2 separate regions of the Homo sapiens genome follow, and region 2 is linked to region 1. A link means that fine-mapping ties the variant in region 1 to the plasma level of a protein whose gene starts in the linked region. Region 1 holds a variant in brackets. A gene starts in the other region. All regions are shown on their reverse strands.

Region 1 (2,500 bases):
ATAACCCAAATAAATGAAAACTGTTTGTAGTCCTCAAAATATTGAAGTTGCAAAGGGGTTCTGAGAACAAAATGTGTGTAAACCACTGGCTCAGAGACTGAGTCTAAGCTGGTCAAATTAGATTATTTCATAGCATGGAGGAAAAGAACAGATGAGACAAAGAGAGCTTATTAGCAAAATGCTGAAACTAAGTTTGAGATCCTGGATAGTCACACATTCATTCATTCAAACATTTATGAAGTCTTACTATGTGCCAGGCCCTAGGCCAAGTGCTGAGGGTTTTGAAATACCTGAGACAAGGCTGGGCAAGATGGCTCACACCTGTGGCTCAGAATTTTGGGAGGCCGAGGCAGGCAGATCACCTGAGGTCAGGAGTTCGAGACCAGCTTGACCAACATGGAGAAACCCCATCTCTACTAAAAATACAAAATTAGCCAGGCGTGGTGGCGCATGCCGGTAATCCTAGCTACTCCGGAGGCTGAGGCAGGAGAATTGCTTGAACCTGGGAGGCAGAGTTTGCAATGAGCTGAGATCGTGCCATTGCACACCAGCCTGGGCAACAAAAGCAAGACTCCGTCTCAAAAAAAACAAAAGAAATACCCGAGACACATCTTCTGCCTTCAAGGAGTAAGGAAGGCTGACATGTAAACAAACAGTGACATAGAATGTGATGAGCGCTACAGTGGAGGGTGCACTGGGACCATGGTAAGAAGTGGGAGACAAAGTGGTCAGGGAGAGCTGGGAAATCTTGAAGGTCCCAGAGACAGGTACCATTCGTGTCTGGGGAAGCCCAAAGTCATCGCCATTTGCTTGCCTGCTTATTTTAACAGTGTTAAAACTGTTTTTAACTGTTTTTAAGTCATTGCCAGGGAGGCCTAAAGTCATTGCCATTTGCTTGCTTGCCTGTTAGTTTTAATAGTGCTGGCTGTCAGCCTGGAGGAGGCAGGGGATGGAGGAGGTAGCGCCAGCCAACTAAGGCCTCAGGCTATGAATATGCAAGAGTTTTGCCATAGTCAGAGTCTCAAGGGGCAAGTAAGAGGAAAAAGG[C/T]GTAAACCAGCATTTCTTCTCATTCTATTACAACATAATTCTACCCCCTTTCCCCTACAAAGAAAATCAGACTGGTAATATATTTATTAAATTTTTACCTAATACATAGTCCTTGTTTTTTAAAAGTCAAATAACATAGAGAATGTGAAAATCCCTCTTCATTCTCAGCAAACTAACACAGGAACAGAAAACCAAACATCGCATGCTCTCACTCATAAGTGGAAGTTGAACAACGAGAATACATGGACACAGGGAGGGGAACAACACACACCCAGGCCTGTCACGGGGTAGGGGGCAAGGGGAGGGAGAGGATTAGGACAAATATCTAATGCGTGCAGGTCTTAAAACCTAGATGATGAGTCGATAGGTGCAGCAAACCACCATGGCACATGTATACCTATGTGACAAACCTGGGCTTAAAACCTAGATGACGGGTTGATAGGTGCAGCAAACCACCGTGGCACATGTATACCTATGTAACAAACCTGCACGTTCTGCACATGTACCCCAGAACTTAAAGTAAAATAAAATAAAACAAAATAAAAAATCCCTCTCAGTAATCACTGTTCCTAGTTTGGTATATAATCATTTCAACTGTTTTCTCTTCCCTTCCCTTCCCTTCCCTTCCCTTCCCTTCCCTTCCCTTCCCTTCCCTTCCCTTCCCTTCCCTTCCCTTCCCTTCCCTTCCCTTCCCTTCCCTTCCCTTCCCTTCCTTCCTTCCTTCCTTCCTTCCTTCCTTCCTTCCTTCCTTCCTTCCTTCTTTCTTTCTTTCTTTCTTTTCTGCCTTAGCCTCTGGAGTAGCTGAGACTACAGGCTCACACCAACACGCCTGGCTAATTTTTGTATTTTTAGTAGAGATGGGGTTTCACCATGTTGGCCAGGCTGGTCTTGAACTCCTGACCTTGGGTGATCCCCACCCACCTCAGCCTCCCAAAGTGCTGGGATTACAGGCTAGCCAGCGCACCCGGCCCATTTCAATTGTTTTCTAGACATATATAAATATACATGAATTTTAGATAAAGAAGCTTCTGTTGGTTTACACTAGAAGGATGTGTAAAGTCAACAGCAATGCCGTCTGTGAGGTGGAACGTCCGCTGATTGTGATAAATGTAGTATAGGAGGCTCCCCTAAAGTGCTGATGGCTAATGGCAATAAAGTCAGTGAAGGAGGATCTCTGGATGCACTTTGTGAAAGATAAATCACACTGCAGAGAAGCCCAGGATCAGAAACAGTGCTTCTTGCTGGATACTTCTCGGTCCTGGACTGGCTGTCCCCGTGCCTGCTTCCTTCTCTCTCTTCTCTCTCCCCAGGCACTGGTCTGTTTTGCTTTCTTCTCGCCTACCTCTGCCCACAGCTTTTGACTCCTCTTCTTTTCTCCCTGGTCCTTTGTCTCACAGGCTTTTCCATGTCTTCCTGTTCTGGGTACAAGCCTATGGCTTCTTGAGATTTTTTT
Region 2 (2,939 bases), not on the chromosome of region 1:
GGAGGAATGACAGGGAGGGCAGGCCTGAAGGGGGCTTTCCCCAACTCCAATCCCTAAGCCCTCTGTCCCAGACTCGTCACTACCCAGCTAGGGCCTAGGCTCGAAGCAGGCACAACTGGATGGCTGGGGGAGAAGATGGAGGGAGGAAGGTCGATGCCCCAGGACGGACCACAGGAAAGAGGCGTTCACAGGAGACTCGCTCTCTGTGCTTCCAAGGCCGGGAGCAGCCGCCTTCCCGCCTAAATCCTCAAGATGGAAGTTGCTCCCTCTAGCTTTCCCAATAGCTAAGGCTGCTGGTTTTGTTAGTGACCCCTCCCTTCTCGTCCAAGTCGATTTCTAGCATTTACTGGATTCCAGAGTCTTGTTATTTAAGAATGCATCTTAAACGGTACTATCAAATTCATGTTACGTGCAGCCCAGATTGTTTTGGGCAGCACGAAAAGTTTCTGAGGCGCTGCGTGTACCCCACCCCAGGACACCGTGTGTGCGCGCCGAGCTGAGTGCGAGGAACGTGGCGCGAGGGCCGGGGGATGCCGGGCTGCGTGGGTGTGAGCCCTCGCGCGACCGCGACCCCGCGCCTCTCCCGCTCTCGCCGGAACGTGACCGCAGCCGCACCTCTCCTCCAGCCCTTTCCCAGCCAGACGCTTCCTTTTAGGTCCTTCTGGGCGTTTATTGTAAATTCTGCGACTAAAACACGCCGGTGAGCCCGGCCCACCGACAGATGGATCAATCGCCCCCTTCCCGGCTAGGGGAGGAGGAACCCCCCAACCCCGGAGCCTAGGGAGCCGGGAGCTGCCTCGGGACGAGCTCCTCGGAGCCCAGCCGGCTGCGGAGCCCCGGCCCGGGTCGGTCTCGGGGCCCTCCTGCCGGGGTGGGGTGCGAGCCCCTGCCCGATTCCTCTGGGGCGGTTCAGGCAGGTTTGCCGGCCTCCGAGGAGGTGGTCAGGGCGCCCTGGCCCAGCAGGCTTCTTCCCGAGCCGGGGGGAGGGGAGACCGGCTGGGGAAGGGGCATCTCGAAGGGGTGGAGGCCGGGGCGGGCGGGAGGCAAGCGCGCCGCGGGCGTGAGGGCAAAGTTCCCGAGGTCCGCGCGGAGAGCACACGTGTATGTGCGCGCGGGGCTAGGCCGGGGCCGGCAGGATGCGTTGGGTTCGGGGGCGCGCGGGGCCGGCGCCGAAGGGGATAATTCCTTTCCCTGGCACCATCGGGGAGACGCTTTGTCGGCCTCGGCTCCTGGGCGCAGGGACGCCTTAGCCCACGGAGGGTGGAGCCCCCCTCAGACCCGGGCCACCGGCTGGGGTTTTTCTAACGCCCTGCCCCCCGAGCCCCCGGATGGCTCGGGCCCCACGGACTCCGCGCCCTCCAGCCTCAGCTCAGCTCCCCAGGCTTCCCAGACCCAGCGGCGCAGGGGGCGGGGGCAGGGGCAGTGGGGGTTGGAGGGCGCAGCCGGTCCCCAGGGTGGGGAGAGCTGCGGGGGGAGGAGGAGGAGGGTGCCGACGCTTGAGTGGGTTCGAGCCCGAGCCGTAGCCGGGGGAGCCAGTCAGTTTCCGGCCAAGGCAGCAGGTCAGTCCCAGGAAGGGCGGGCGATTGAGCCGAGGGAGCCGGCGGCTGGGCTCTCCTCTCGGCCCGCGATCCCCGGCGCCGCCGCCGCCGCCACCGCCACCGCCACCGCCTTCGCCTTGTCGCCGCCGCCGCTGCAGAGCATCGTAGCTCCGCCGCGCTCCCGCGCCCCGCGCCCCGCGCCGCCAGCCGCCTGGGAGCCCGAGCGCCGAGCCCGGGGCGGAGGAGAGGGGCGCTGGCGCGAGAGCCCGGGCGAGGGAGCCGCGAAGGGAGAAGGGGGCGGGCGGAGGGAGGAGCAGGGAGAGTGGGAGAAGGGGGAGGGAGAGAGGAGAGCGAGGGAGAGCTGGAGAGAGCGAGAGCAAAGAGCGAGCGAGGGAGAGGAGAGAGAGAGAGAGGAGAGAGAAAGACACACGCACGCAGAGACACACGGTCACTGGAATTCCATTAGAAAAAAGTGAGCCGAGCAAGGGTTAGCGGGAGAAGATTTTTTTGAATCTTGTCTTCGTCTTGGTGCGAAAGAAGCGACTCCAGTCTCTCGTCCTCGAAGCTCCGACTGGATTGTTCTTGGGCGCTGACACCCGTCTGTGGATTTCTTTTCTATTTGCATTTTATTCCGACCCCCTCCCTCGCCGCTTCCTTCCAGCCCTTCACTCGCAAATCGCCTCTCTCCCCACCTCCCCAGGCCCCTCCTGGGAAGCGCAGGGGAATTGGACCCGCGGGGACTCACGCCTTCCCGGACGATTGGAGGGGAGGGCTGACCCCAGGACTGGGCTGTTGGCTTAGAAAGCCGATACACAGATACGCGTATATTTGATTGTAGCGGGCAAGGGGGGCGTCGAGAGGCAGCAGCCCATCGCCCGCCTCTCACCCCACCCCCTCCAGCCAGAGGCGAGAATCGCAGGACTCGGGATCTTCATCGGGTGGACTAGCTGGGATCTCCGCATTGGATTTGGGGCTGATTACCACTGCTTGCCTATTATTATTGTTGTTGTTACTACTATTATTTTTTTTTACCCAAGGGAGAAAGACAAAAAAACGGTGGGATTTATTTAACATGATCTTGGCAAACGTCTTCTGCCTCTTCTTCTTTCTAGGTGAGTACCTGCGGGCGGCGAGCTCGAGGGGGAGGCGAGAAGCCGGGGAGGCGGGGGGCGAGCGGAGCGCCGGTGGGGGGCTGGCGGGAGGTCGGCGGGGAGAGCGCGCCGCGGAGCTAGCCGGGCCCGGTGCTGGCGAACCGAGCGGGGCCGGGCGGCAGGGACGCGGACGAGGGACCGGAGCCGCGGCTGGCTGGCGACGCAGGGGGATCGGGAGGGAGACTCAACATCCGAACCAGCCCCGCAGACACTGTGCACGCACACACACACCCGCGCTCGCTCACACGCC

Alleles and levels. Alleles are on the strand shown, and positions count from the first base shown. The strength of an association depends on the size of the effect and on how common the allele is.
For the plasma level of the protein whose gene starts at base 1,895 in region 2, allele T in region 1 goes with a lower level than allele C (weak association).

The links. PIP is the chance, under the fine-mapping model, that this variant and not a neighbour inherited with it causes the effect. Protein levels are from antibody-based Olink assays in UK Biobank. Linkage for the fine-mapping came from a reference panel and not from the study's own genotypes, which makes the PIPs less certain.
Region 2: GFRA2 starts here. The variant in region 1 is fine-mapped to the plasma level of the GFRA2 protein (UK Biobank, PIP above 0.99).

Annotation. Positions count from the first base shown.
Region 1 is chr10:100,314,270-100,316,769 of GRCh38, reverse strand. All of the region lies in intron 2 of PKD2L1 (polycystin 2 like 1, transient receptor potential cation channel), which reads left to right. Among named protein-coding and RNA genes, the nearest start is that of PKD2L1, 15 kb to the left of the region's middle. The variant C/T (reference allele first, on the strand shown) is at 1,048.
Region 2 is chr8:21,787,831-21,790,769 of GRCh38, reverse strand. GFRA2 (GDNF family receptor alpha 2) reads left to right here and starts at 1,895. Exons shown (of 9, transcript NM_001495.5): 1 at 1,895-2,650. The coding sequence starts at 2,611.